Linked DNA regions of Homo sapiens. The protein of the gene in region 1 purifies or fractionates together with the protein of each later gene. This does not show direct contact. Each region holds a gene or a part of one and is shown in the gene's direction. Other genes may lie near its edges.

Evidence for each region.
Region 2: the proteins of RBM27 (region 1) and ZC3H11A fractionate together in Homo sapiens (co-fractionation; one large-scale study listed by BioGRID). This does not show direct contact.
Region 3: the proteins of RBM27 (region 1) and ZNF346 purify together in Homo sapiens (co-immunoprecipitation; one large-scale study listed by IntAct). This does not show direct contact.
Region 4: the proteins of RBM27 (region 1) and SRFBP1 purify together in Homo sapiens (co-immunoprecipitation; one large-scale study listed by IntAct). This does not show direct contact.
Region 5: the proteins of RBM27 (region 1) and PCF11 fractionate together in Homo sapiens (co-fractionation; one large-scale study listed by BioGRID). This does not show direct contact.
Region 6: the proteins of RBM27 (region 1) and MACROH2A2 purify together in Homo sapiens (co-immunoprecipitation; one large-scale study listed by IntAct). This does not show direct contact.

The regions. Positions count from the first base shown.
Region 1 is NC_000005.10:146,258,368-146,263,740, forward strand, and holds part of RBM27 (RNA-binding protein 27), read left to right. Parts: intron 1-81; coding exon 82-226; intron 227-2,377; coding exon 2,378-2,531; intron 2,532-3,142; coding exon 3,143-3,439; intron 3,440-5,123; coding exon 5,124-5,264; intron 5,265-5,373. Other genes in the region: RBM27-POU4F3, read left to right, coding at 82-226, 2,378-2,531, 3,143-3,439, 5,124-5,264. UniProt on the Homo sapiens protein: May be involved in the turnover of nuclear polyadenylated (pA+) RNA.
Region 2 is NC_000001.11:203,792,610-203,798,474, forward strand, and holds the start of ZC3H11A (zinc finger CCCH domain-containing protein 11A), read left to right. Parts: upstream 1-3,013; 5' UTR 3,014-3,185; exon of another isoform or gene 3,186-4,913; coding exon of another isoform or gene 4,914-5,865. Other genes in the region: ZBED6 (zinc finger BED domain-containing protein 6), read left to right, coding at 4,914-5,865. UniProt on the Homo sapiens protein: Through its association with TREX complex components, may participate in the export and post-transcriptional coordination of selected mRNA transcripts, including those required to maintain the metabolic processes in embryonic cells.
Region 3 is NC_000005.10:177,028,496-177,033,868, forward strand, and holds part of ZNF346 (zinc finger protein 346), read left to right. Parts: intron 1-5,373.
Region 4 is NC_000005.10:121,975,111-121,978,974, forward strand, and holds part of SRFBP1 (serum response factor-binding protein 1), read left to right. Parts: intron 1-204; coding exon 205-277; intron 278-3,864. UniProt on the Homo sapiens protein: May be involved in regulating transcriptional activation of cardiac genes during the aging process. May play a role in biosynthesis and/or processing of SLC2A4 in adipose cells.
Region 5 is NC_000011.10:83,173,058-83,178,430, forward strand, and holds part of PCF11 (pre-mRNA cleavage complex 2 protein Pcf11), read left to right. Parts: intron 1-4,027; coding exon 4,028-4,147; intron 4,148-4,603; coding exon of another isoform or gene 4,604-4,650; exon of another isoform or gene 4,651-4,656; coding exon 4,657-4,762; intron 4,763-5,373. UniProt on the Homo sapiens protein: Component of pre-mRNA cleavage complex II, which promotes transcription termination by RNA polymerase II.
Region 6 is NC_000010.11:70,072,214-70,077,586, forward strand, and holds part of MACROH2A2 (core histone macro-H2A.2), read left to right. Parts: intron 1-3,386; 5' UTR 3,387-3,445; coding exon 3,446-3,617; intron 3,618-5,373. UniProt on the Homo sapiens protein: Variant histone H2A which replaces conventional H2A in a subset of nucleosomes where it represses transcription. Nucleosomes wrap and compact DNA into chromatin, limiting DNA accessibility to the cellular machineries which require DNA as a template.

The DNA.
Region 1 (5,373 bases):
TAGTTTTTAGCTTTTAGACTAAATATATTAATCATTGAGACTCCTGAAAAACTCAGTAATTTCAATTTTTTTTTCCAACAGCTGCTAACATTGTGATCCAGACTGAACCACCAGTTCCTGTTTCGATTAATAGCAACATAACCAGAGTAGTTCTTGAACCAGATAGTCGAAAAAGAGCTATGAGTGGTTTGGAAGGGCCACTCACAAAGAAACCTTGGCTGGGAAAGTAAGATAATTTGCTAATTAGTAGCATCTAATTGTTATTGTCGTTTGCATTGGTAAATTCATAAAAATAAGATTTGTCATTAATTAATGTTTTTCAAACTAGGTATCTTGAAGTTAGGGTTCCAGGAGACATCTTTAGAATGTTGTAAAAATTAAAAAGTTAACAATATTTATAATTTTTTTTTTTTTTTTAAAAGACGTAGTCATCCAGGCTGGAGTGCAATGGTATAATCTCAGCTCACCTCAACCTCTGCCTCCTGGGTTGAAGTGATTCTCTTGTCCCAGCCTCCTGAGTAGTTGAGATTACAGGTGCCAGCCACCATGCCCACCTGATTTTCTTGTATTTTTAGCGGAGATGGGGTTTCACCTTGTTAGTCAGGCTGGTCTCAAACTCCTGACCTCAGGTGATCCACCCACCTTGGCCTCCCAAGGTGCTGGGATTACAGGTGTGAGCTACCACATCCAGCCCAAAATAGGTATTTCTAATTCGTACCTACCTATTTCTACGCCTAACCCAATATTAGAAATTACTGAGACACTAGCAATGGATAGAAAAGAAGAAAAAAATGAAATCAACGGTGAAAAAAAAAAGCTTAGTACCTTTGCAGAAGTTGAAAATATGCCGTTAAAGATGATGTTCTAGCTGGGCACAGTGGCTCACGCCTATAATCCCAGCTCTTTGGGAGGCCAAGGCGGGTGGATCACTTGAGGTCAGGAGTTCGAGACCAGCCTGACCAAAATGGAGAAAGCCAAAATACAAAATTAGCCAGGTGTGGTGGCACGCGCCTGTAATCCCAGCAACTTGGGAGGCTGAGGCAGGAGAATCGCTGGAACCTGGGAGGCGGAGGTTGCAGTGAGTTGAGATTGCACCATTGCACTCCAGTCTGGGCAAAAAGAACAAAACTCTGTCTCAAAAAAAAAAAAAAAAAAAAAAAGGTGGTGTTCTAGCCTTCATTTAATGATGTTAGAGTCTTTGATAATTGTGGTAGATCTTTATGGTAGATCTATTTAGCATATGATTTTAAGTGTTAGTTGGGCCTTTTCTTTTTGTAATCTATTGCTGTTCACCTTTTCTATTCTCATGTAATAAGAATAATGTGGCCGGGCGCGGTGGCTCACGCCTGTAATCCCAGCACTTTGGGAGGCCAAGGCGGGTGGATCATGAGGTCAGGAGATCGAGACCATCCTGGCTAACAAGGTGAAACCCCGTGTCTACTAAAAATACAAAAAATTAGCCGGGCGCAGTGGCGGGCGCCTGTAGTCCCAGCTACTCGGGAGGCTGAGGCAGGAGAATGGCGTGAACCCGGGAAGCAGAGCTTGCAGTGAGCCGAGATTGCGCCACTGCAGTCCGCAGTCCGGCCTGGGCGACAGAGCGAGACTCCGTCTCAAAAAAAAAAAAAAAAAAAAAAAAAAAAGAATAATGTTGGCCGGGCGTAGTGGCTCACACCTGTAATGCCAGCACTTTGGGAGGCCGAGACGGGTAGATCACCGACGCCAGGAGTTCAAGACCAGCCTGGCCAACATGGTGAAACCTTGTCTGTACTAAGCATACAAAAATTAGTCGTGCGTGTTGGCATGCACCTGTAATCCCAGATACTCAGGAAGCTGAGGCAGGAGAATCACTTGAACTTGGGAGGTGGAGGTTGCAGTGGGCCGAGATTGTTCCACGGCACTCCAGCCTGGGCGAATGAGTGAGACTCCGTCTACAAAAAAAAAAAAGAAGAATGTGAAAATTGCTTAGTAATTTCCGAAGAATGTTAAGGGCTCACAAAAGGAACTTTAAACAAATTAATCAATCAGTTAATTTATTACATAGAGATGTGGTCTTACTATGTTCCCCAGACTGGTCTGGAACCCCTGGGCTCAAGCAATCCTCCTGCTTTGGCCTCTCAGAGTGCTGGCGTTACAGGCATGAGCTACTTCGCTCAGCCTGTAATCTGTTTCTGGATGCTTATGTATTTTCTGTGGTTTGAATTTTGAATATAATGTTTCATATGATTTTGAAGAAGTTTTCTGGGATTATAGGTGGAGCCACCATGCCCAGCCACAAAAGGCACTTAAAAAAATTATAAACCTAAATTCTTTGTGGTTATATCTCTTTGCTAGGCATGAAGTAGGAGAATTAACCAAGATGTATTAATCTTCCTTTTAGGCAAGGAAATAACAATCAAAATAAACCAGGGTTCTTACGAAAGAATCAGTATACAAACACCAAATTAGAAGTCAAGAAAATCCCTCAGGAATTGAACAACATTACCAAGCTCAATGAACACTTCAGCAAATTTGGAACTATTGTTAATATCCAGGTAAATGTGGCTATGTCAGTGACAGAATCCAGGCATTTTATGGGTCTTGGGAATATTTCTATCAGCTCACCTTGTTTAAATGAGTCAGTGGTTATTCTGATCATCTCTGCTAAGTGCTGTAAATGCCACCATATATCTATATACCCACTTTTATGATGGACTTGTTAAACCATGTTTGTTCTTGTGAATTCATTTGGTTCTTTTCTGCAATCTCTTCCTGAAAGAGAATGGGTAGCCTCACAGTTTTGGAGACTGAGAAGTCCAAGATCAAGGTGCTGGATGATTCATTTCCTAGGGAGTGCTGTCTTCCTCGCTTGCAGATGGTTGGCTTCTTGTGTTCTCACATGGCAGACAGAGAAAGAGAAAGAGGGGGTCAGGGCAGATCTCTTTCTCTTCTTTTAAGGCCACCGATACTATTCATTAGGATGCACCTTTGTGACCTCATTTAACCTTAATTACATCCTAAAAGCTCTATCTCTAAAACAGTAATGTTGGAGTTTAGGGCTTTAACATGTGTATTTTGGGGAAAACATTCATTACATAGCAGTGGGTCATAATTTATTTAACTATTTTCTGTTTTTGGGAATTTATATTGTTTTATTTTCTTCAAGGTTGCTTTTAAGGGTGACCCAGAAGCAGCCCTAATCCAATATCTTACCAATGAGGAGGCCAGGAAAGCCATTTCTAGCACAGAAGCAGTTCTAAACAACCGATTCATTCGAGTCTTGTGGCATAGGGAAAATAATGAGCAACCGACACTACAGTCCTCAGCACAGCTGCTCCTGCAACAACAGCAAACACTTAGTCACCTCTCACAGCAGCACCATCACCTGCCACAGCATCTACATCAGCAGCAGGTGCTAGTGGCCCAGTCTGCTCCTTCAACAGTGCACGGAGGTATCCAGAAGGTAATCTGGTTCACTGGGAATTAAAGGTCTTTTAGTTACACCCTCTAGATCAGTATTTTTCAATTCCTGGTCCTTGGGTCTTCTACAGAAGAGCTACTCTTAATTTGAACTGCAGACCAGTAGCATCTGATCTCCTGGGATCTTATAGAAATGCAGATTCTTGGGGGAAAAATTTCAGATTCTTGAGCCATACTCCATCCTACTGAATCAGAATCCCTATGGGTGGGGCCCAAGGATTTGTGTTTTAACAAGCTCTCCTGGTGATTCTTACATACCTTAAAGTTTGAGACCTGCTATTTTACATCAGAATCACTTACCTGGGTGCAAATTTCTGGGCTTCAGCTTCTCAAACCTCTGTAGAGTCAGTCTCTAGATACAGGGCCTATAAATATACATATTTAACAAGTACTCTTAAGTTATTGTTATGCACCCTAAAGTATAATAACCATCTACCACAGAGCAACTTTAACTGTAGAGCTATTTATTTTTTAGAATCAGTCTTTTTTGTGTCTACCCATTTGCCCTCCTTTTTCCCATGTAAAAAAGTTATATGTTCCTTCTAAAAATGGGAATAGAAGCTCCAAGAGAATTGGAATTTTGCCTGTTGTGTCCATTCTATCCCTAGTGCCTAAAACAATGTCTGGTACATATTGCTCAAAGCATATTTGATTGAATAGATGAAGGAAGGAAAAAACAAAACAACAAACTACCACACATCAGAGCCATTCAGAGATTGACCTAGATAATCTCATGCTTAGATTAAATACAGTCAGATTTTTAAAAAGTATTCCTTACAGTACATGGCATCAACTCCATTTATCATCCTGCTCATTTGCATCTAAATTCTCTTTCAGTTATGTTTGTATCCCACTTCATGTAAGGGTGCAAAGGTGAATGCTTCCCCTAGATGTTGGGTGAATAGTGTAGAAAAGAGTTCATACTATCACCTTCATGGTGATGATTAAACATGTTCTGTTAGTACAGCCCAAGATTGCATTATGTTTTTGAGGTGATCATTTCACAATTATTCATATTAAGCCACTGTCAGTTAAGACCCCCTAATTCTTTTCTTCTTCTTTTTTCCTTTTTTTTTTTTTTTGAGACAGTCCTGCTTTGTCGTCATTCAGGCTAGAGTGCAGTGGCTCAGTCTTGGTTCACTGCAACCTCTGCCTCCTGGTTCAGGCTACCTGCCTCAGCCTCCTGAGTAGCTGCGACTACAGGTGCATGCCACCACCCCTGCCCAATTTTTGTATTTTTAGTAGAGACGGGGTTTCACCATGTTGGCCAGGCTGGTCTTGAACTCCTGACCTCAGGTGATCCACCCACCTTGGCCTCCCAAAGTGCTGGGATTATATGTGTGAGCCACTGTGCCCAGCCAAGACCCTCTAATTCTTTCAGAGCATTGCATACTAGAGGAAACATTAAAAAATAATTAATGGTTTTTTTGTGTGTAGGTGCATGTATATTTTGTTGTGATATGTTTTAGACATCCCAAAAAGTATGAATAATCTATCATTTGTATATTCACCAGTTCCCCTTAAAAAATAAAACCTTACGGATAATTGAAGCACCTTCCCGTTCCCATTTTCTTATCTTCTTCCCTAGAGTAATCATCTTAAATTTGTACCATTTCTAGGCATGTTTTTAAACTTCTGCCACATAAGTGTTCATTTTGTATGTGCAGATGATGAGCAAACCACAGACATCAGGTGCATATGTTCTTAACAAAGTTCCTGTTAAACATCGTCTTGGACATGCAGGTGGTAACCAGAGTGATGCATCACATTTGTTGAATCAGTCTGGTGGTGCTGGAGAAGATTGCCAGGTATGCATTTTTGGGAGCTTCAGATATATTTAGAATCATTCAGTGAATTAACAGAATAAATCAGTTATCATTCAGACAGTGAAGACAGTTGTGACAGTTAACCTAAGTG
Region 2 (5,865 bases), on another chromosome or scaffold:
TATGGGGGGGTGGGGAAGGTTGGCATGTGCACTCTCCTGACTCTTAGAGGGTTTCCCAACTAGTTTTCTCTCTCTGCAACAGCCTTAGGCTTTTTCTCCTGCCTTTTTTTTTTTTTTTTTCTGTGAGACAGGTTCTCTCTCTGTTGCCCAGGTTGGAGTGCAGTGGTGCAATCTTGGCTCACTGCAAACTCTGCCTCCTGGGTTCAGGTGCTTCCCTGCCTCAGACTCCTGAGTAGCTGGGATTACAGGCGGGTGCCACCACACCCGGCTAATTTTGTATTTTTAGTAGAGACAGGCTTTCGCCACGTTGGCCAGGCTGGTCTTCACCTCCTGACCTCTAGTGATCTGCTGGCCTGGGCCTCCCAAAGTGCTGGGATTACAGGCGTGAGCCCCTGCCCAGCTTGCCCTCTTCAATGTCCTTATTACCCTATTATTTTTTCTTTCCCCCCCTTGAGAGATACTAATGGAAAATGAAACATGATTGTTTCCATCAATAAGGGACTGGTGAAATAAATTGTAAAAAGAGGCTTACAGAGAGCGGGATGGGAGCTATTAAAAAGAATGTAGGCCGACGTGGGCAGATTACCTGAGGTTAGGAGTTCCAGACCAGCCTGGCCAACATGGAGAAACCCCGTCTCTACTAAAAATACAAAATTAGCCTGGCGTGGTGGTGCATTCCTGTAATCCCAGCTACTCAGGAGGCTGAGGCAGAAGAATAGCTTGAACCCGGAAGGCGGAGGTTGCATTGAGCCGAGATTGTGCCATTGCACTCCAGCTTGGGAAACAAGAGTGAAACTCTGTCTCAAAAAAAAAAAAAAAAAAAAGAATATGGTAGGCCTCTAAGTGCTGATGACCATTAAAAGATATTCAAGATATATTGTAAAGTGAAAAAAGCAAATTGCAAAACGGTATGTATAGTTTTAGCCTGTTCATATTTTCATTCATTCTAAGATGTACATCCTTTCCTAGCCTGTCACCTAGGCTGGAGTGCAATGGCGTGATCTTGGCTCACTGCAACCTCCACCTCCCAGGATCAAGCAATTCTCTTGCCTCAGCCTCCAAGTAGCTGGGATTACAGATGCGTGCCACTGTGCTGGGCTAATTTTTGTATTTTTAGTAGAGGCAGGATTTCACCATGTTGGCCAGGCTAGTCTCGAACTCCTGACCTTGTGGTTCGCCCGCCACAACCTCCCAAAGTGCTGGGATTAGAGGTGTGAGCCACCCTGCCCGGCCGGCCTGTCAGTTTAATTGGCAGTTGTTGGTTTTTTTCTTCCACTTAGAGGCTTGTAAAATAAAAGTGTATCTTACAATCAATGATACTTTAGGTTTACTGAAATATAACTATAAACTCTATATAGCACACTAGTCAGGCCAGGACTGCATCTTGGAGAGTCCTAGGTTGGAAAACCCTTAAGCTATGTGGAGAGCCCTCTGGTAAATTTTAAAAACCCTAGGTGTCGTGGCACAGACAGAAATTGGTTACCAGTAAGAGTCACACAGACCAAAAAAATGAAGACCAAAACAAAAGAAAAAGAAAAAGAAAGAAAAAAAGAAATTGGCTACCAGGAACTTGCTTATTAGGTCTGTTGACATGGCAATGCCAGAGCACTGTCACGTAAGGCAGAGATTGGAGCTAAGATTCTAAAGTTGTGGTTCTTACTTTGAAAGGAGATAAAAGCCCAGATATGAGGAGGCTCAGGACCCCTCTGCTCTGATAAATTCCTAGTCTTGGGCTGCCTGGGACTCGCACATCACCAACCCGGCAGCTGGAAGAACAAGCACACGAGGAAATAAAAGGTGCCTGAAGTCCCATCTGCTTTATCATCAAGTGTTTCCTTTCTTAGTAGCACAACTATATCCTTTACCCAAGTTAGGTAAAATGTTGCCACCTAATTAGAGTTCTGCTGAGCCACTACCCCAGGGGGACCTTGGGCTCCTATTATATGTGTAATATATTTAAGTATATTTTCAGTGTAAAAGCCAGAAAGGATATATGGTAAGTTAATGAGAGCTATTTCTCAAGAATGAGATTAATAGAGATTTTAACTTTCTACTCTCTATATTTCTGTATTGTTTCTAAAAAAACTTACGTGTATTAAGTTTTTTACTTTTTTTTTTTTTTTTTTTTTTTGAGATGGAGTCTTACTCTGTCGCCAGGTTGGAGTGCAGTGGTGCGATGTCAGCTCAATGCAACCTCTGCCTCCCAGATTCAAGCGATTCTCCTGCCTCAGCCTCTCGAGTAGTTGGGACTACAGGCGCGTGCCACCACGCCTAGCTAATTTTTGTATTTTTGGTAAAGATGAGGTTTCACCATGTTGACCAGGATGGTCTCGATCTCTTGACCTTGTGATCCGCCTGCCGAGGCCTCCCAAAGTGCTGGAATTACAGTCGTGAGCCACCGCACCGGCCACGTGTATTACTTTTATAACCGGGGGAAAAAGTAAAAACATTCAAAAGGGAAAATAAGGGACAATGTTAATAATGAAGCAGGGATGAGACTGCTGATTGCGACCTCCAACTAACTCTCCTGAATTTTGTCACGAGCATGAATTACTTTTCCAATACACAAATTTGCTTTAAGAAATCAAAGAAACACCCCCCCAAAGCCCAATCTCACTTCTTCAAGTAAAAAATAAACTAACAAATCATTCTACATTGCATGCTTAGGAAAAGTACAGTTTATTTCTAAATTAAATGTATACATGGTTTGGGAGATTTACTCATTAAGCAAACACTTTGGTAAGAATAAATTGAGCGCTTACTGAATGGCAGTCTCAGTTCCTGCGGCCCTCCCGCTTATTACCTCATTTGATTTAAAAACAAAAACAAAACGTTATGAAAGCCGGCTTCGAGGCATTCCTCTGAAGGGAAGGGACTCCCCGACCCAGCGCCTCCCCCGTCACGTGACCCTGTGACCCGGAGCAGCCATCTTAGGCATCGCCTCATAGAGGAACTACATCTTCCAGAATCCTCGCGCCCTGCGTCGTGCTGGCACTTTTACCGGCCGGGCCTTAGAGCGGAGCCTGTAGCCAGGCGCCATCTTTGACGCTGGCAGTCTTGGTTTTCTGCTAGTGCTGCTGCTGCTGGGAGGACGACGGACGGCAGCGGCCAAGCAAGAAGAAAGACGTGGCAGCAAGCGGGAGTCGGGGATAGTGTCATCGGTTCGGTAAAGTTTCTGTTCTCTGGTAACTAGACCCGTTTTTTTGATTCCCGGGTGGCTTGGGGCCGGGGAGGTGGGGGAGAGGGCGAGGGGAGTGGCAGCGGCCTCCCCTCGCCCCTGGGTCGCGGCCTATCCCGGGAAGTCAGAGCGGATCCTTCAGCTTCGCCGTAACGACCCCTCCCCCCCACCTCCCGGTCGCGGCCCTCGCCGGGGCTGGCTGGGAGCCCCAGGCTCCCGCTCACTTTTCCCATCCTCCCCACCCCCACCCCGTTCACCCCACCCCCACGGCGCCTGCTCCTTTCCCAGCCAACCTTCCTCCCCTCCCCCACATCCGGTGTTCGCTAATCTCGAGGAGCCCGGAGCAGCCCCGAAAACCGACTGTTCCCCCGAATCCCGAAGAGAGAACTGACACTAGATTGCTTTCTTCGGGGCAACAGTTTCTCTAGTTGAGCGGACCCTCACTGCCTAAATCAATCAGACTGAGTGCCGGGCGCTGAATTTACCTACTCTCATTCCTCTCCAGGGTCCCGGTACTTTGGAGCTTGTCTCAAACTCCACATACAGAAAGCCACCGACCTTATTCCGGTATCCTACACCCATTCCCCACTCTCATTACACTCCCACCCCTGGCCCTCAGCGTCGGAGTCAAGAGCAACAGGGACACTTCCGTTCTCCTTGTAGGACTGGTGAAACCGTAATGAAGAACACCCCTAAACTCCCATAATCGGTGCGGATTCCTATGGGGAAGGCCTATATTGTTGACATCTTCCAGGCCTTGGTTCTGGACCTTGAGAAAGAGGCTGTGGAACTAGAGATAGCGATGCTTTTTAGGGTAAATGTATGTAGGTATTGGGGGAAGGGGAGGGATCAATCGAAAAATGGAAGTGGTTTAAAGTTCATATTTCACTTTTTGCTATCTCTATAGCGTACAACTTGTGAGTTACTTACAGGCTGTAAAAGCTTCTCAAGTCTAAAAATATCTGAAAACTAAACTTGAATTAACTCTTAATACAAACAGTACTTTGAAAATGCAGCATTTAACCTTGTTTTAAAATTTTTTTCTCAAAGCATTTTTTTCCAGCCACTCACATTTTAAAAGGTTGTATTACTTTTAGTTAGAACTGAAAGGGCTCAACTAGCATTTGCTGTGACCAGTATGCGGAGTCTGTGTTGGCTTTCCAGAATTGACTTTTTGGGTTGTATTGGCAAATCACAGTCCTAAATGATGAATGTTGAATGATGCACTATGTTTTTGTTTAAATGAGATTTCCTGAAAATAGTTAATTTCAGAATTAAGGGAAATTGATGTCGCTATCATGAGGCATCATAAAAATATGTATTTTACAAGGTGAAGGCATTTCAAGTAGATATAGTTCTTGATGAAGCAGGAAGAACATGGATCTGGGATTTGGAAGACCTGGCTTCTAGCTGCTACTAACCAACTCTGTGACTCTGGGAAAGGGGGACTCAGTTCTTACTTCTGTAACATGAGGACACTGGACTATTTGAATTCAGAACTTAGAAAATTGGAAGGGACCTTAAAGCCCTCTAAGAAAGAGTTCGGGAATGTTCTCCATTGCTGTCAGTTTTCCTCCAAAAATAACCTGGCTTGGAAGTTATTGGTCCAGTGGGAATTTGATTCCCCATAGAAACTGGAGAAAAGGTAATGCAAGTAGAGAGGAACAGCTGTATTTCTGCTTGAGTAATAAACCCACTAACAGATTCTGGTACGAATTGTGGAGACATAAAGAGAATGAGTGTATGTACTCTAAGTGTACCAGTTTCTTCACTCTCTCCTGGCAGAAGATGCAACACTTTTAGTGATTCTGGGATTCTGGGATGTGTTCCTATTAATTCTAATACAGATGAAGAAGATGTGGTAGAGGAAAAGATGGTAGCAGAAGGAGTGAATAAAGAGGCAAAACAGCCTGCTAAAAAGAAAAGAAAGAAGGGTTTGCGAATTAAGGGGAAAAGGCGTCGAAAAAAATTGATTCTTGCCAAAAAGTTTAGTAAGGATTTGGGATCTGGGAGGCCTGTTGCAGATGCCCCTGCTTTGTTAGCTTCCAATGACCCTGAGCAGGATGAAGAAAGTCTTTTTGAGAGCAATATAGAAAAACAGATCTATCTACCTAGTACTAGAGCCAAGACCTCCATTGTGTGGCACTTCTTTCATGTTGACCCCCAGTACACCTGGCGGGCCATTTGTAACCTCTGTGAGAAAAGCGTCAGCAGGGGTAAACCAGGTAGCCATCTTGGTACATCTACTCTTCAACGACATCTGCAAGCAAGGCATTCACCTCATTGGACCAGGGCCAACAAGTTTGGAGTTGCTAGTGGAGAGGAGGACTTTACCTTGGATGTGTCTTTATCTCCCTCTTCTGGAAGCAATGGAAGCTTTGAATATATTCCTACTGATCCATTAGATGATAATAGAATGGGCAAGAAGCATGATAAATCAGCATCTGATGCCCTAAGGGCAGAAAGAGGGAGATTTCTCATCAAAAGTAACATTGTCAAGCATGCTTTAATTCCTGGAACTAGAGCCAAGACATCTGCCGTTTGGAATTTTTTTTACACTGATCCTCAGCACATCTCAAGAGCTGTGTGTAATATATGTAAAAGAAGTGTGAGCCGGGGTAGGCCAGGGTCCCACTTAGGGACTTCAACACTTCAACGACACCTGCAAGCCACACATCCTATCCATT
Region 3 (5,373 bases), about 31 Mb from region 1:
TTATATATATATATATATATATATATTTCCCTCCATAGTTCCTGGCTCACAGCTTCTATAACCCTTGTACTTTCCTCAGTGACTAAAGCAGTAAGAGTATCTTCTGTTAAAATATTTGGCCTTTTGTCCTTGCTTCCTGAAACACCTCTGGAACTGCTCCAGAGCAAGAAAGGTGAAAAACAGACTTTTGTTATTTATAACAAGCCCCTTTCTTTTTTTTTTTTTTTTTTTTTTTTTTTTATGAGATGGAGTCTCGCTCTGTTGCCCAGGCTGGAGTGCAGTGGTGCGATCTCGGCTCACTGCAAGCTCCGCCTCCCAGGTTCATGCCATTCTCCTGCCCCAGCCTCCCAAGTAGCTGGGACTATAGGCGCCCACCACCACACCTGGCTAATTTTTTGTATTTTTAGTAGAGACGGGGTTTCACCATGTTAGCCAGGCTGATCTCGATTTCCTGACCTCGTAATCTGCCCTCCTCGGCCTCCCAAAGTGCTGGGATTACAGGCGTGAGCCACCGCACCCGGCCATATAACAAGCCCCTTTCAGCCACACCTTGGTACATGTTAATAGGGTGATTTTTGAGAAGTCCCTAGATTACCACATTCTGGTTGGCTGGTTGCCATAGGAACCAACCATGTGCTCAGAGGCTTGGAAGTTACAGCCCCCCATCTTGAGAGGGTAGAAAGGAGCTGAAGGTTGAATTGATCACCGATAGCCAGTGATTTAATCAACCATGCCTATGTAATGAAGCCTTCATAACAACCCAAAGACCTCAGTTTAGGGGCTTCCAGGAAGGTGAACAAGAACACATTCATGTGCTGGAAGTGTGGCACACCCCAATTCCATGGGGATAGACGCTCCTACACATTAGACCCTTCCAGACCTGGCCGTATGTATCTCTTTATCTATTTGTATCCTTTAACATATCTTTTAGGTTGGCCTGACCCAGTGGCTCCTGCCTGTAATTCCAAAACTTTGAGAGGCCAAGGCAAGAATGTTAGTGGCCATGAATCTCAATTTCTGCCTCCTCAGAAGAAAGAATTCAACCAAAGGGGCATAAGGCAAAGTGAGAGACCAAGGCAACTCTTAGAGCAAGAGTGAAAGTTTATTAAAAAGTTTTAGGGCAGGAATGAAAAGAAGTAAAGTATACTTGGAAGAGGACCAAGATGGCGACTTGAGAGAGACAAGTAGGCGGTTTGACCTTTGACTTGGGATCTTACACATTCACACGCTTGCTGGGTCTTGCGTGTTACTTCTCCCCTGGTTTTTCCCTGAGTTCTGTGAGCTGCTCTAGCAAATTAATTGAATCCAGGGGTGTCATGGAAACCTCGATTTATAGCCGGTTGGTCAGAAAAACAGGTGAAAGAATGTGGAACCTGCAATTGGCATCAGAAGTAGGGCTCAGTCTTGTAGGAATAAGCCCTCAACCTGTAGGATCTGAAGCTGTCTCCAGGTAGATAGTGTCAGAATTGATTTGAATTAGGGGACACCAACTGGTGTCCACTGCAGAATTGAGTGCTTGGTTTCTGGGAGGAGAAAACCCACACATATGGTCACAGAAGCGTTCTGTATTGTAAAAGTAAAGTAGGATAAACTGAGTTTTTTTTCTCCAGAGCACTGCTTTAGTTGCAACTCATAAATTTTTGAATGTTTTATTTTCACTTAAATCAGTTCAAAATAATTTCTAATTTCCCTTGTAAAATTTCTTCTTTGATACATGTTATTCAATTTCTAAATATTTGAGGATTTCCCAGATTTCTTCCTATTGTTGATTTCTGATTAAATTCCATTGCGTTCAAAGAATATACTTGAGATGAGTTCAGTCCTTTTAAATGTAGTGCAACTGGGCTGGGGGCGGTGGCTCACGCCTGTAATCCCAGCACTGGGAGGCCGAGGCGGGTGGATCATTTGAGGGCAGGAGTTCAAGACCAGCATGGCCAATATGGTGAAACCCCCATCTCTACTAAAATACAAAAATTAGCCGGGCATGGTGGTGCCGTGCCATGGGGTTTCACCGTGTTAGCCAGGATGGTCTCGATTTCCTGACCTCGTGATCCGCCCGCCTCAGCCTCCCAAAGTGCTGGGATTATAGGCGTGAGCCACCATGCCTGGCTATTTCATTTTTAAATAACAGCTTTATTGACGTAAATCTCACATTCCATAAAATTCACCTGTTTAAAATGTACAATTCTGTGGTTTTTAGTATATTCACAGAGTTCTGCAACCATCACCACTGTCTAATTTTAGAACATTTTCATCACCCCAATAAAGAAACCCTATACCTAGGAGCAATCATCCCTGGCAACGACTTATCTCCTCTCTTTATGGATTGATGCCTATTCTGGACATTTCATGTAAATAGAATTGTATAAATATGTGGCATTTTTGTGACTGGCTTCTTTCGCTTAGTGTAATTTTTTTTTTTTTTTTTTTTGGTTTTTTTTTGAGACGACATTTTGCTCTTGTTGCCCAGGCTGGAGTGCAATGGCATGATCTAGGCTCACTGCACCCTCTGCCTGTAGAGTTCAAGCGATTCTCTTTTTTCTGTTTTATTTTGTTTTGAGACAGAGTCTCGCTCTGTCGCCCAGGCTGGAGTGCAGTGGCGCGATCTCGGCTCACTGCATGCTCCGCCTCCTGGGTTCACGCCATTCTCCTGCCTCAGCCTCCCGAGTAGCTGGGATTACAGGCATGCGCCCCACAGCCAGCTAATTTTGTATTTTTAGTAGAGACAGGGTTTCTCCATGTTGGCAAGGCTAGTCTCAAACTCTCAACCTCAGGTGATCTGCCGCCTTGGCCTCCCAAAGTGCTGGGATTACAGGCATGAGCCACTGCGCCTGGACACTTAGTGTAATGTTTGCAGGATCATTTGGCTGGATATAGAATTCTTAGTTGACATTTTTATTCTTTTTCACCACTTTGAATATGTCATTCCAGTGCCTTCTGGCCTTAATTGTTTTCAAATAAGAAGTTGTCATTAATTGAATTATTTCACTGTACATGATGAGTCATTTTTCTCTCTCTCTCACCGCTTTCAGGATTTTCTGTCTTTGCCTTTCAACAGTTTGTGATGTGTCTAGGTGTAGCTCTCTTCACATTTTTCCTAGTTTGGGTTCCTTGAGATTTTGGAATGTGTAGATTAATGTTTTTCATCAAATATGGGAGGTTTTTGGACATTTTCTTCAAATATTTTTTTCTACTCTCTCTCTCTTCTCTCTTCTTCTGAGGCTCTCCTTACACATATGTTAGTATGCTTGAAGTTTTTCCATAATCTCTGAAGCTTTGTTCATTATTCTTCAATGTTATTTCTCTTTGTTCTTCAGATCAGCTATTTCTATTGCTGTATCTTCAAGTTCACTGATTCTTCTGCCATTTTGAACTTGCTGTTGAGCTCCTCCAGCAAATTTATTGTATTATAATTTCAACTCCAGAATTTCCATTTGTTTGTTTTATTAGTAGCAGATCATCAGTACCCTTACATTTGCTTTCTTCATGCCTTTTCTTTTTTCTTTTTTTTTTTTTTTTTTTTTTTTTTGAGATGGATTTTCACTCTTGTTGCCCAGGAGTGCAATGGCACAATCTCAGCTCACTGCAACCTCTGCCTCCAGATCCAAGCAATTCTCCTGCCTCAGCCTCCCGAGTAACTGGGATTATAGGTATGCGCCACCACACCTGGCTAATTTTTTGTGTTTTTAGTACAGATGGAGTTTCACTATGTTGGTCAGGCTGGTTTTGACCTCCTGACCTCAGGTAATCCACCCACCTTGGCCTCCTAAAGTGCTGGGATTACAGGCGTGAGCCACTGCACCCAGCCTTTTTTTGTTTTTGTTTTTGTTTTTAGACAGAGTCTTGCTCTGTCACCAGGCTAGAGTGCAGTGGCGCAGTCTTGGCATGCTGGGATTACAAGCATGAGCCACTGCACGCAGCTTTTTTTTTTTGAGACAGAGTTTCGCCCTTGTCACCCAGGCTGGAGTGCAATGGCACAATCTCAGTTCACTGCAACCTCCACCTCCTGGGTTCAAGCGATTCTCCTGCCTCAGCCTGCTGAGTTAGCTGGGATTACCAGCCCTCTACCACACCTGGCTAATTTTTGCACTTTTTAATAGAGATGGGGTTTTACCACGTTGGCCAGCCTGGTCTCAAACTCCTGACCTCAGGTGATCCGCCCGCCTCGGCCTCCCAAAATGCTGACATTACAGGTGTGAGCCACCATGCCCGGCCTCTTCATGCCCTTTTCATTGGATAGAAATTTGAGCTTCTTGAGACCATCAGCAGTATGGATTTGGCCAGGCATGGTGGCCCACACCTGTAGTCCCAGCTGCTTGAGAGGCTGATGCAGAAGGATCACTTGAGGCCAGGAGTCTGAATTCAGCCTAGGCAACATAATGAGACTCTGACTCTAAAAAATTAAATTAAAAACAAAAACACAGTATGGACTCACAAAATGGAAGTACCAGTGCTAAGTAGACTTAATAGGACCGTCTTGTTCATTCTTTTAGGCCATACTGCCCATTAAAATACTACATTGTCTAACCATTCTCATCCATGGGTAGATTATACCCAACCTCCCTTTCCTATGATTGTTTGAGGGGTTTTTGCTTTTGAGATGGGGGATCTTGCTCTGTCACCCAGCTGAAGTGCAGTGGCGCAATTATGGCTCACCAGAGCCTCGAACTGCTAGACTCAAGTGATTTCCCCCATGTCAGCTTCCCTAGTAACCAGCACTACAGGCGTGTGCCACCACACCTGGATAATTTTTTAATTTTTTTTGTAAAGATGAGGTCTCACTTTGCTGCCTGTGTTGGTCTCAAACTCCTGGCATCAAGCAATCCTCTAGCCTCAGTCTCCCAGAGTGTCAGATTACAGGCGTGGGCCACTGACCCAGCCCTAGGATCTTTTATTTTCTGCTTTCTGACTATAGCTATACCTAAAAACCCTTTGCCTCCTAATAAGCTGGGTAGTAAATAGGTTTCATCTTCCTAAGGATCACCTTCAGTCAGTTGACGAATTTTTTTGTTTTGTTTTGTTTTGTTTTTGTTTTTGTTTTGTTTTGAGATGGAGTCTCACTCTGTAGCCCAGGCTGGAGTGCAGTGGCATGATCTCTGCTCACTGCAAGCTCCGCCTCCTGGGTTCACGCCGTTCTCCTGCCTCAGCCTCCTGAGTGGCTGGGACTACAGGCACCCGCCACCACACATGGCTAATTTTTTGTATTTTTAGTAGAGATGGGGTTTCACCATGTTAGCCAGGATGGTCTCGATCTCCTGACCTCGTGATCCACCCACCTCGACCTTCCAAAGTGCTAGGATTACAGGCGTGAGCCACCGCACCTGGCCCAGTTGATGAATTTATACAGAGCTCAATTGTAGATTCTAAGGTCAC
Region 4 (3,864 bases), about 24 Mb from region 1:
TTGCCATTTTCCAACATATGGGTTTGGTTAGTAAATTGAGGTGTGTTTTGGGAGTGGGGGAAATGGACAGTGTAGGATAGTGGCGTGTTTGTTATTTAGAGATTTATTACGCTTTTCTAAAAAGAAATGAAGTGATTATCCATTACACTATAAGTCTAAAATTAATGCTTTGCCTGGCTACATATCGTAATGTATTTTTTGCAGGGGTACTGAAGATGCACTGTTAAAAAACCAAAGACGGGCGCAAAGATTGCTTGAAGAAATCCATGCCATGAAGGTAAGGACTTGTGTGGGTGTGTATGTGTGTATGTTTCTGAGTATCCTGTTATCCTGCATTTTGTTTGTGTGTGGTATTGCTTATTTGAATATTCCCGAGAGTTGCGTAAGACATCTTGTATCAGTCTGTTTGGTGAAGAATGTAGCACATTTAGAAAATTGTAACATTTAAGCTTGCATTTTTCTGTTTTTGACTGAATTTGTTAAAGTGCTAGGCTAATTTGAGTCAAAATTGTGCCAAACTAAATTCATCTATGTTTAATAATGCCTCCTGCCTCAGGTTTTTATTTTTACTGTAACTTTAGCACGAAGTCAGTTCAAGAATTAAAGTCTTCATGCTATTTGGGAATGTGGATGGTGATATTGGTGGCTGACATCATGCTTTCCTTGTTGCCAGCTCAATAAATTTTTATGTATTGGTATCGGCATTTTATTCAGTTCTGTAGTAACTTCAAATAAAATTAGTGTTAGACCAATGTGATCCCATATTTTTGTTTTTTTTTTCAGTCAGACTCTTCACTAGCATAATTTTTAGGTCTTCTTGCTGCTCTTACTTTGAGGAAACTTTCATTTACCAAATGACATGACATTAAATGTCTGGGAGACTGTTTTACTGTAGAACTTAAAAACAACATTTGGTCCCAGCAATTTTCTTAATTGCAGGGTCATTTTGCATGCATGTTTGCCTATTATATTTTGGTATAACTTTCAAGTTTTGAATTAAGTAAAAGAGAAATAAAACTCTCTAACTATTTTAATTGAGTTAAGTTATCAAAGATTCTCAGCCTTTCTTCCTTTTAAACGGATAGTAAAGTGTTTAATAGGACAAAGTTATCCCAGTTAATCTGAATAAAAACATCTAGGAAACGACTCTTTGATATGAAGTATATTTGTTTCTTGTGTTCTTCCTTCCCTCTGCTGCACACTATTATAAAATTCATGGAATCCATCTGATATAACTTTTATTTCTCAAGGTTATAATTCCCTTTTTATTCAGTCCTTCAGGAAAAAAAAGTCTTCTGTATTTGACTGTCAGTGATCATTTGTGTCTCTGTGGTTTGCAGATTATTTAGTTTTTTCATATACCTTTTTAAAATGATATTCCTATGAGAAATAAAATCTTTAGAGATTTTGTCTTGAGAATAGCAATAAAATAGGAAGTTACAATTTATCTCTTTCACTTTCTCTTAACCAAGGTTCTTACTAAATTACATTGCCTACCTAAATTTTTCCCTGTAATTTCTTCTGAATAGTCATTTTTGTAGTCTTAAATTATTCAGAGGCTTTGAGCTACTATATAATTGCTGATTTTATTTTACCATGGAAAGAATGCAGTGTGTGTGTGTATGCATGTATATATATATATAATATATATATGTGCATACACATACACATACAATGTATAGTTGGCTACTCTGACTTTAACTTCTTTTGTAATACTGTTTAAAAACTGGAGTAAACTGGAATTTGTTAAATTTTTTATATATATAAAAAATATATACATACACACACACTACATTCTTTCCATGGTTTGTTATATATAATAACTTGTATGTGGTGTATGAAGAGTTTGAGAACAAAAGATACTCAATCTTTAGAATACTTCCCTTTTGTAAATTTCAGTGATACATTTGATTAATTAGAAAGAAAAGTTGTCCTTTTTGATCTAAATGTAAAGCCTGTTTTCTGTTTCTTGTTTTGAATCTCATCAGCAAAGGGAAATCTGATTCAGTGATAAAGTTTGTAGGTTTACAAGATTACCACATCACTATCGTGGTTTGGTTTGGTTTGGTTTGGTTTGATTTGTGTTCTATTTTTCCCTGTGATTGCGCAATGGAATGGTTGCATCATAGAAAGCCAAATTCATAGCCTATGTATTCCTTAAATTCATAAAATTCATAGTATATATATGTCTTGAGTTTGTGGCAGGAGTTAGGGCAGGCTGGGTTGGCTACTCTGACTTCAACTTCTTTTGTAATGCTTTTTAAAAACTGGAATGAATTTAAATATAAAATGAATACTAGAAAGACTATATATTTGCTGTTCTTACGTGTCAAATTTTATTCCTTATTTATGGTTCTTTTACAAATTTTGTTGTCTTTTCTAAACAAAGCAAATAAATAAAGCATTTTTCTTAATTAAAAGGTCATTTGTAATTTTCTTAGGAAATGGTTATTACCTACTTGGGAGTATCAAATAAATGATGACAAAACAAACTCTCAATCTCAATTAAATTTGGAGAAAAGACCTCTGCTCATTTATTTTTCCAGAGAAATTTTTTCCTTGGCTCAGACACTGCTTCATTTTTATAGTCTTATTGATGACATACTATCCTATTCTTGCTTTCTATAATAATAGGGTATTTTGTTGCAGGATGACTTCTTTGTGAAGAAATCATGAGTATTTTTAGAAATGAGAGTTTGCTTTTTCTGGCCAACTAAGAAAAAAAATTGGCTTGATCTTTACACTATAAAATCATAGGTTCTAATTTTATAGACTATGGTGTATGAAACCCAAGTCTTTGCTGCCTTTTCTATAATAGTGTCCATACTTTTAACTTTGATATTAGTAGAAATATTGCCTTCTAAAACAGTTTCTTTTTCTTTGAAAGTTAGTTAAATTAGCCTATCAACACTTATAGATCAGTAAGTTACTTAACTGGAGAAGGAGATGGTAAAATTCAAGCATATACTGAAATTACTCAAAATGTGCAACAAGTCTCTTACTCAATAATAAAAGTAACAACTAGCTTTTACTGAGCATTTACTATGTGCCAGGCATTATATTATGTGTTTTATATTTACTGTCTCACTAGGTAGATATCATTTTTATCCCTGTCTTACAGAATAAGAAACTCAAGCTTAGAGAAACTGAGCAACTTATAACTGATTATAAAGCTAATTATGTTATCCACTGTAGTATACTGCTTCAGTAAGTTGAGAACATCCTATGATATATCCAGACTCACTTTCCTAGATATTGGAGGAGATAATTTAGTAAACATGAAACTTGCCATCTAGGAAAAAAAAGACTGAAAGATGTGCAACGTGTTTTCAGATCCTTTAATTCCTGACAGGTAAATATACACAGTAGCCTATATCTGTATTTCTTTTTTTTTTACTTGAGATGGAGTCTCTCTCTGTCGCCCATGCTGGAGTGCAGTGACCCGATCTCTGCTCACTGTAACCTCCGCCTCCTGGGTTCAAATGATTCTCCTGCCACAGTCTCCTGAGTAACTGGGACTACAGTTGCCTGCCATCATGCCTGGCTAACTTTTGTATTTTTAGTAGAGACAAGGTGTTGCCATGTTGGCCAGGCTGGTCTCGAACGCCTGACCTCAGGTGATCCGCCCACCTCGGCCTCCCATAGTACTGGGATTACAGGCGTGAGCAACCACTCCTGGCCTATCTGTATTCTTTTTTAACCTCTTCCTCTCTTAAGGCTGTTACTTCTTCCTATCCTGAATATTCTTTAAGATGAGAATTTATGTATTCTTCTTTGAGACCTTGTTCTGCCTGCTACCTCTTACTTCTCCTCTAGTTTAAAACTTTCTCCTTTTGTTCTATTCTTCCCCTAGTTTTACATTCT
Region 5 (5,373 bases), on another chromosome or scaffold:
GATCTAAAGCCCAGAAGACCAGGGTTGGAATCTCTACTATGTTACTTTATAAATGCGCAGGCTTTAAGCAAGTATCTCCCCTGAGGTTCAGTTTTTTCCCTCTGTAAACAGCATATGGGCCGGGCATGGTGGCTCACGCCTATAATCCCAGCACTCTGGGAGGACGAGGCAGGTGGATCACAAGGTCAAGAGATGGAGACCATCCTGGCCAACATGGTGAAACCTCGTCTCTACTAAAAATACAAAAATTAGCTGGGTGTGGTGGTGCATGCCTGTAGTCCCAGCTACTCAGGAGACTGAGGCAGGAGAATCGCTTGAACCCAGGAGGTGGAGGTTGCAGTGAGCCAAGATCAGGCCACTGCACTTAGGCCTGGTGACAGAGTGAGACTCCGTCTCAGAAAAAAAACCAAAAACCAAAAAAAAAACATGATATGGTAGTATCAGTATTTGTCTGTTTTGTTGTTGTTTTTTTTTTTTTAGAGAATCAAATGATATAGTATATGCAAAAGTACTTTGTAACTTGTAACTTGTCAAGTGCTATATTAATGTATTTTCCTTTAGAACTCAGTTTTTATTGTTGAGCAGAGGATTTGTTATATTGGGGTTAGTGGCATGAGATGCTCTACAGAAACTACAAATTTTCTTGTTTCTTTCTTTCTTTCTTTTTTTTTTTTTTTTTTTTTTTTTTTTGAGACGAGTCTTGCTCTTGTCACCCAGGCTGGAGTGCAGTGGCATGATCTCAGCTCACTGCAACCTCTGCCTCCTGAATTCAAGCAGTTCTCCCGGGCTCAGCCTCCCCAGTAGCTGGGACTACAGGCACATGCCACTACACCTGGCTAATTTTTGTATTTTTAATAGAGGCAGAGTTTCACCATATTGGTCAGGGTGGCTTGAATCCTGACCTCAGGTGATCCACCTGCCTTGACCTCCCAAAGTGCTGGGACTACAGGTATGAGCCACTGTGCCCAGCCTTGTTTTGCTTTTACAACCTTGGGTTATATGTGTATGTGTACAGGACATAGCAGTGTCACAGAGGAAATCATAATTATTCCCCTTGTTAGGGGGTATTGAATGGGACATTAGGTGTGTCTTCATTCTTCAAGTTCTTCTTACTCTTAAAAGATGTGTCAACAGTTTTCAGTGTGCTATATTTAGCTTCTCTCAAGGTTCCTTCTCTAATTTGAAAGTGTAAACATCCCTTTTCTAGTAGGAAATATACCCATGTTCATTTTTCAGACATATATTAGTCATCTGCTGTATGCTAGGCAGTATGCTAGGATGAATTTAATAAGGTTCATCCTTCAAAGACCTTTATTTTTATTTTTAAAGTTTTTTTTTTTTTTTTAAAGAGGGTGCTCACTATGTAGCCCAGGCTGGTCTCAAACACCTGAACTCAAGCAATCCTCCCACCTCGGCCTCCCAAAGTGTTGGGTTTATAGGCATGAGCCACCACACTCGGCCTCAAAGAGCTTTATAATATAGAAAGGCTATTGATTTTTTTTTTTTGGTTTAACAAAAAACACATAATAATGCCAAACACCTCAGTTCCTTAGAAATATTAATTCATTTAACCTCATATCAATCTTAGGTAGGAACTATTATTACCCTTTTTACAGGCACGGGAAACTGAGGCATAGATAAGGAACTTGATTATGTCACACAACTAGAAAGTGGAATTTCTGGTTAAAATCCCTGGAGTCTGGTTCCACAGTTTATGCTGTTGGTTACTAGACTTGGCTGCCCTCAGACATCTGAATAGCTAATTGTGCATCTTAGGCATATAAATAGCTAATTTAAAGGAAAGTAAAGGTTAAACTAGTGAGTTAAATGTTACTGTAATTGATTATTGAAGTTGATCTCTTCATTCATGTATTCAGACATTTAGTTTGAACAGACATTAATTAGCCTACGATATATAAGGCAGTATGATAAATGTATACAGTGGTTAAGGGTAGGGATTATCTGTATGTGGATGCAAATTGAATTTCTGCCATTAAGAGGAATTTTTAGTGGTTCAGAACTTTTCTGTATAGGTGTAGTGAGATGCATCATAGTGACATACAAATACATTAAAATATTGTTTTCTTTTTTTTGAGATAGGGTCTTCTTGCTCTTTTGTCCAGGCTGGAGTACAGTGGGGTGATCTTGGCTCACTGCAACCTCCTCCCAGTTTCAAACGATTCTCATGCCTCAGCCTTCTGAGTAGCTGGATTACAGGCATGGGCTACCACAACCGGCTAATTTTTGTATTTTTTAGTAGAGACGGGGTTTCACCATATTGGCCAGGCTGGTCTCAAACTCCTGACCTCAGGTGATCCACCTGCATCACCCTCCCAAAGTGCTGGGATTACAGGTGTGAGCCGCTGCACCTGGCCTAAAATATTGTTTTCATAGTTAAAGAATCACAATTATGGCCGGGCACTGTAGCTCACACCTGTAATCCCAGCACTTTTGGGAGGCTAAGGCAGGCAGATCATGGAGTCAGGAGATCAGGACCATCCTGGCTAACACGGTGAAACCCCGTCTCTACTAAAAATACAAAAAGAAATTAGCTGGGTGTGGTGGCACGCACCTGTAGTCCAGCTGCTCTGGAGGCTGAGGCAGGAGAACGGTGTGAACCCAGGAGGTGGAGCTTGCAGTGAGCTGAGATCGTGCCCCTGCACTCCAGCCTGGGCAACAGAGTGAGACTCTGTCTCAAAACAAAAACAAAAACAAAAAAAGAATCACAATTATTAGAATAGTGCTTGGAAAAATATGAGACTGGAATGATTCCTCACCAATGAGGATTCCTTATCAAGCAGAACAAGATTGTTAGGCTTATCTTATTTATTCAAGTTATTGAAGCTTTAGTAACCATGACACCTTTTCAGCAATAGCTTGAGCTGCTTTGCAAGGGCAGTATGCTTTTTAGCAAAGGTCATAGGAGCAGGTATACTCTGAGCCATCTGATTCATCTCCCTGTTTCAGTTTTCCTGTTACGTCAGGGAGCATTGAGGTCAGGAGTACTTCCACTTAGGCTTAGTGCTAAGGGGTAATAAACTATTTCATCTATATAAAACTACTTTTTCCAGTGTACTTAGAAGATGAGGAAGAGAGATTAGAAAGGTGGAAAGTTGGAGATGGGGTGGTGCTGCATTGCTTGGGAGAAGGGAGCATAAAGGGTCATTATTTTCAGTGTTGTCAGCATTTGTTTTAGAATATATTCTCAACTCCAGTGTGGTGATTCCTCAAGCATCTAGAACTAGAAATACTATTTGACCCAGCAATCCCATTACTGGGTATATACCCAAAGGATTATAAATCATGCTTTTATAAAGACACGTGCACACATATGTTTATTGTGGCACTATTCACAATAGCAAAGACTTGGAACCAACCCAAATGTCCATCAATGATAGACTGGATTAAGAAAGTGTGGCACATATACACCATGGAGTACTTTGCAGCCATAAAAAAGGATGAGTTCATGTCCTTTGCAGGGACATGGATGAAGCAGGAAACCATCATTCTAAGCAAACTATCACAAGGGCAGAAAAACAAACACCGCATGTTCTCACTTGTAGGTAGGAATTGAACAATGGGAACACTTGGACACAGGGCAGGGAACATCACACACCAGGCACAGTCGGGGGGTGGGGGGTCTGGGGGAGGGATAGCATTAGGAGAAATACCTAATGTAAATGACGAGTTGATTGGTGCAGCAAATCAACATGGCACATGTATACCTATGTAACAAACCTGCACGTTGTGCACATGTACCCTAGAACTTAAAAGTATAATAAAAAAACAAAAAAAAAAGAAGGAAAAAAGAATATATTCTCAAGTCATGCTGACTTGTAGACCTAAATGAAAAGATAATCTTAGGGGCTTTTGAAATTAAACTTATTAATAAATTAGATTTTGTCAAATTTACTGTTGGCAGGACATCTTGAAGAAAACTTTGAAAAATGCTTAGTATAATTTGCATCTTTAAGTTCTACATTCACTTCAAAAGTGGTTTTTTTTCTTTCTTTCTTTTTTTTGTTAGGAGCCCTCCCTAAGGCATATCCTGATAATCATCTCAGTCAGGTGGATGTAAATGAATTGTTTTCAAAATTGCTAAAAACAGGAATTCTCAAATTGTCCCAAACTGATTCAGCTACAACACGTAAGTGTGATTTTATACTTAAATTTACACAAAGCTTCATTAAGTTTTTGAGATGTATGATGTAATATAATGATATAAGTTATGATAAAGGTCCTTACAATAATTGAATTCCTAGGTATAGCTTTTATTTTTGATTTTCGGTTTATAATGAAATTCTTTTAGATTTCCTAAGATTGAACTACCTTATAGTGGACATGTGTTTCAGTTAACTAACATACCTAATGTGCAGGCTTTTTACCAGTAATTGTATGTTAGATTAACTTTTGAAAAGGTTTTGAATATTAATGAAATAAATGACTTTTATTATAGATGACTTTTAAGAAATCAGAGTTAACATCACATATCAAAATAAAAAATTGTATTAGGTTCCTTGGCCAGTAAACTTGAGATCAGAAGCACTGAATGGACTAGGTGGATTTCTCTATTTGCTTATAATACTATAGTGTTCCTCTGTAGAGAATACATGGAGAATGGTATTAAGAAATTTGTATGTCTCTTCTTAATTGAAGAAGTAAGTGAAGTAACTGCTCAGCCTCCCCCTGAAGAGGAGGAAGATCAAAATGAAGATCAAGATGTTCCAGATCTTACTAATTTTACAGTTGAAGAATTGAAACAGTATGTAATCTAATTTTCTTTAAGATAAAGAGGCAGTGACTTTAATAACACTGTTATAGTGGACATTGTTACTATTAGTGCTTTCCCTTTCCCTTTATCCCTTTTACTGTTTTAACATTTAGGAAGTCTTTTTTTTTTTTTAATGTGGTAAAATATACATAACATAGTCTTTGGGAAGCCTATTTTTAAATCGTCTTTTAAAATATGTCTGCTGTACAAGTACTTGGGCCAAAGGCCACCCCCAAAAGTCTTACTCTGCTGCCCAGGCTGGAGTTCAGTGGCGTGATCCTGACTCACTGCAACCTCTGCCTCCCAGGTTCAAGTGATTCTCCTGGGATTACAGGTGTGCACCACCATACCCAGCTAATTTTTGTATTTTTAGTAGAGATGGGGTTTCACCACGTTGGCCAGGCTAGTCTCGAACTCCTAACCTCCAGTGATCCACCTGCCTTGGCCTCCCAAAGTGCTGGGATTACAGGTGTGAGCCACCACACCTGGTCCCTCAAAATTTTCATTTTTTAATCTGTGATACAGAAAACTTAGGGAGTTTAAATATTAGGTATTGATAATTCATGTATTCCTGTTTAGTTTCATTTTCTGTGTATCATCAT
Region 6 (5,373 bases), on another chromosome or scaffold:
TTTTATTATTATTATACTTTAAGTTTATAAGCATTTTTCTATTAAAATTTTTTTTAACTTTTTAAACTTCTGTTAAAAAAAATAAGACACATACACATTAGCCTAGGCCTACACAGAGTCAGGGTCATCAATAACACTGTCTTCCACCTTCACATCTTGTCCACTGGAAAGTCTTTAGGGACAATAACACGCACGGAGCTGTCATCTCCTGTAATAATAATGCCTCCTTCTGGAATACCTCCTGAAGGATCCATTTAAGGCTGGTTTACAGTTTACTTTGTTTTTAATAAGTAGAAGGAGTACCAGTAACATCGTCATTTGTTATCAAGTATTATATACTATACATAATTATATGTGCTAGACTTTTATATGACTGGCAGCACAGTAGGTTTGTTTACATCAGCATCACCACAAACACATGAGTAAGGCATTGTGCTACACCGTTAGGATGTCACTAGGTTGGCCAGGTGTGGTGGCTCACACCTGTAATCCCACCACTTTGGGAGGCTGAGGAAGATGGATCACTTGAGGTCAGGAGTTTGAGACCACCCTGGCCAACATGGTGAAACCTCGTCTCTACTAAAAATACAAAAATTAGCCAGGCATGGTGGTGCACACCGATAGTCCCAGCTACTTGGGAGGCTGAGGCAGGAGAATCGTTTGAACCCCAGAGGCAGAAGTTGCAATGAGCCGAGATTGCACCACTGCACTCCAGCCTAGGGGACAGAGCAAGACTCCTTCCCAAACAACAACAACAACAACAAAAAGATGTCACTAGGGCATAGGAATTTTTCAGCTCCATTATGATCATACAGGACCACCGTCATATGCGGTCATTGTGGGGTGCATGACTGTAGTTATGTAGAAGCGGCGCTATGCCCAGGACTTTCTGTTCCGCAGTCCTGGGCTCCTTCCACTATAGCAAGAGCCACCTCCATTTAGAGCACCACAACCCAGCTAGCAAACACGTGCTATGTGAGGACAGGGACCACTTAGCAATGCTGTCTGTTTCCCCTCTTTCCTGCGACAGGGCTGACTAACAGCAGGCCCTCCATACATTTACCTAACACATAGTTGCTTGCTTCCTCAAAGAGAAAACCCCTACAAGTGGATTTATGAGAGTGAGCAGCCACAGACAGCAGCAGCACGGCAAAGGTGGGAGATCTTGTTTCTTCCAGATGAAGAAACAACGTGATAAAACAACATGGCAACATTGCCTGATCTCTGGGCCTTGCAGTCAAAGAGATAATAGTCTAAGGCACTTCTCTCATCTTTGCTTGTACCTAACTGATGAATAGCTACATCCTTTGGTGGCAAAACGACATATGAAGTATAAAATAGGGGAGTAGTAAGTACATATGAGCATTTTAAATAATGTATATGAAGTATATACTAAAATGCCCCAAACTTGAATCATTCACCTCGGGGACAGGTGAGAGTTGAGAAAGGGCTTTGTTGCTAATTTCAGAGCTTTTAATATAGTCTCCTTGGTCGTAATGGAGTTATCAGATGCTTTAGAAAATTGAAATCTGTTCACTCTTTCACCTAGATTAAGTAAATCCTGGTTTTGTATCTATTTCATATTAACCAAGCATTCATTTAATATCTTCTTCTGTCATATTTAGGGACTTTCTTGGGCCCTCCTTTCCTTTGCCATCTTGCCTGTTGGTATGATGACCTAACCAGGATCAATGGATAGAACCAATTTCAATTTGTTCTGACTTTCTCATTTTTCATCTCCAGAGGAAACGGCCCCTGAGAACGCCATTGACCTTGGGGAAGAGAGCTTTGATATATTAACACATTTCCTAGAAAATGTCATTTTCCTTTTCTTTGCTCCTGACCGTTTGTCCCTTGTAATTTGCTTTTACTTACTGAAGATTATATTCCATTTGTCGGTTACGGTACCCTGTCAACCAGCAGACCAAGCCTACCCAAGATCTACTACAATTTTCTAGATTGTGGGTGGGCTTACAAAGACTCTGTCCAGGAATATGTGATTATTTTGTCTTCACACAAAAGATAGCTTCCTTAAGCAACAGTGAATGTTTCTCTCTTAGTTCCTGGTGCTGAATTCACCTCTTTGTGCTGACTGTGAAGTTTCTCCCAAAATCAACCTGGATTCCTCATTCCAAGGAACAGACGCTCAGGCTGCATTATGGCTTTTCATTTGCTATGTTTGCATACCACACATATTCAGTAAAACTGCCTCTTCTGGCCTGTTTCCATTTCTGAGTGCTACATTATTGCAGGATTTAGAAAAGTGTCTAAAAAATACACATCAGCTCTCAGTTATGTCTGTCAAACCTAACGGATGGTTTGGCTGTGTCCCCACCCAAATCTCATCTTGAATTATAGCTCCCATAATTCCCACATGTTGTGGGAGGGACCTGGTGGGAGATAATTGAATCATGGGGGTGGTTTCCCCCATACCATTCTCGTGGTAGTGAATAAGTCTCACGAGATCTGATGGGTTTATAAGAGGAAACCCCTTTCGCTTGGTTCTCATTCTCTCTTGTCTACTGCCATATAAGACGTGCCTTTCACCTTCCACTATGATTGTGAGGCCTCCCCAGCCACGTGGAACTGTGAGTGCATTAAACCTCTGTTTCTTTATAAATTACCCAGTCTTGGATACATCTTTATTAGCAGTGTGAGAACAGACTAATACACTAACCATTATAATGGGCAAAGTCATATAAGCCAAGAGGAATTGTATTAGTTTTCTTATTGTTGCTGGAACAAATTACCCCAAACTTAGTGTTTAAAACAATACAAATTTATTTTCTTATAGTTCAGGGGTCAGAAGTCCAAAATTAGCCTTACTGGGCTAAAGTCAAGGTATCAGCAGGACTAATTCCTTCTGATGGCTTTGAGGGGAAAATCCTTTTCCTTCTGTTCTCACATCTCTTACTGCCCACTCTGACCCCCTGCCTCCGTCTTCTAAGGCAATTATGTTAGCCCCATCCAGATAATCCAAGATAAACCTCCCCATCTCAAGACCCTTAGCTTAATCCCATCTGCAAAGTCTCTGTCATATAAGATAACAGTCACAGGTTCTGGGGATGAGGAAATTGACATCTTTGGGGATCATTGTTCAGCTGACCACAGGACCGAGACCTCCCTATTCAGTGACAGTTTTCTGTGGCCTTTCCTCTTGAGGTCAGGCTGCTTTGGTGGGGGAGGGATGTTTGTGGGTGGGCTTGCCCATGCCCTTCAGAGACCCCATGCCTGACTCCGTGCCTCCTGCACCTGCAGTAGCAGCCAGATTTCAGCTGCCTCCCCAGGGCAGTCAGAGGTGTCACAGTGGTGCCCAAGGGCCATGCCACTGTGCCCAAGATGTTTGCCAACTACCCTTCCTCAACTCTGTCTTCTTTCCTTTTTAGCATTGTGTTAGTGCCGGGAGGCCACTGTGTCAGCAAGCTGAGAGGGAAACTGAAGCAAGATGTCGGGCCGGAGTGGGAAGAAGAAAATGTCCAAGCTGTCCCGTTCAGCTAGGGCAGGTGTCATCTTTCCAGTGGGGAGGCTGATGCGTTATCTGAAGAAAGGGACGTTCAAGTACCGGATCAGCGTGGGCGCCCCTGTCTACATGGCGGCAGTCATTGAGTACCTGGCAGGTAATGAGGACACGCAAAGGAGGCTGCCTGCTCCCAGGTCCCCACCCTCCCCTGGGTCCCCCTCGCAGGCTGGGGAGGGATGCTCCAAATTGCCTTTTGGCTGGCTCAAGGCTACTGTGGGTGGTGACAGGGTTGCAACTGGCCTGCTTGGCTAAAATCAACTTCTGCAGACTTTAGGGGAGAGAAGAGGGTATAGGAAGGACAGGTGATCAGCATGGAAGGCGGAGAACCCACAATCAAGTAAGTGGCCCTCCTAGACCAGTCCTGCAAAAGATATGTCTTGCTTTAAGCGAATGCAATATATAAATATCTAAGCTCCTGAAGAAAATAAACTGCAGGGAGAATGGGGGATTTGATATTCATTTTGTAAAAGGGAGTCTTTTTACATCAAATTGCTCATTAAACATTAGTTTTCCTGGTATATTTAAACTGGGACTCAGGGTCCATAAATAACATTTATCGCATCATTAAAAGCATCTTTCAGGTGCTGGCATGAAGCCGATGTAATGTTCTAATTTTGCTCTCCTTCACTGAGGTGATTCTCGTCTAATAGGGGTGCACAGAAAATAGTTTCCCATATTTGTTGTTAAAGTTAATTTTTTTACTGAAAGATGAGATTTTGCTGTGTGTGTTCTTTATCTTAGTAACTTTCTCTTTAGCTTTTTTGTTGTTGTTCTCTTATGTCATAGTTAAATAGAAACCAAACTTTACAATATCAGGGGTGCTTTTCAGAAGTATTTACAAATAAAATATATAAATATATATGTACAATAAGTATGATTTAGTCCCTTGTTGGGTAATAGCCACGAGCAACAATGTCTCTGACTTTGCCCAAGGTTAACAAATTCCCTAGACACCAAGGTTAAGTTCCTTGGAAATTCTGCCAGGTTAAAAAGCAAACCTCCCCAGATGGTCTAACACTGGGGAGGCAAGCCTCACTGCATGAAATCCTCTGGGCTGTGGCAGGGCTGGTCCTCTCTTCTGTCCCCAGATTCCTCTTTTCTGCTGGTTTTTCCTCTTTAGATGCTCAGTCCTGCCCTGCCCTCTTAGTCCCCATCGCCCACCAACCAACATTTATTGGTGAAAGGTTTTCCTTGATCCACGGATCCAAGGAGGAAATGTCCTCCCCCGAGAGCTTCCACCAGGCAGACCTCTGCATCATGAGCCTTCCTTCCTCTTATGAAATGAAAGCCTTCCTCCTGAGCTAAAAGTCCTTCCCTCCTTTAGGAGGTTGGGGAGAGCTGGAGGGCTCTGAAAAGCAGTTCTTTTCCAAGTGGGGTCACGCAGGGATCTTGTTGACAAGGGCAGGGTGGCACCTGAGACTCCATTCCTCAAACTCCCAGGTGATAATGATGCTGCTGGTCCAGGGACCACATGTTGAATAGCAAGATTGTAGCCAGCCTTTTAACCTCAAGCCAAAAGATGTGGGGAATGCTTGTTTCAAATGCAAGTTCCCGCCAGGCACAGTGGCTCACACCTGTAATCCCAGCACTTTGGGAAGCTGAGGCGGGTGGATCACCTGAGGTCAGGAGTTCGAGACCAGCCTGGCCAATATGGTGACACCCCATCTCTACTAAAAATACAAAAATTAGCCAGGCGTGATGGCAGCTACTGGGATTACAGGCCGGTAATCCCAGCTACTTGGGAGGCTGAGGCAGGAGAATCACTTGAACCCAGGAGTTGGAGGTTGCAGTGAGCTGAGATCACACCACTGCACTCCAGCCTAGGTGACAGAGCGAGACTCCGTCTCAAAAAA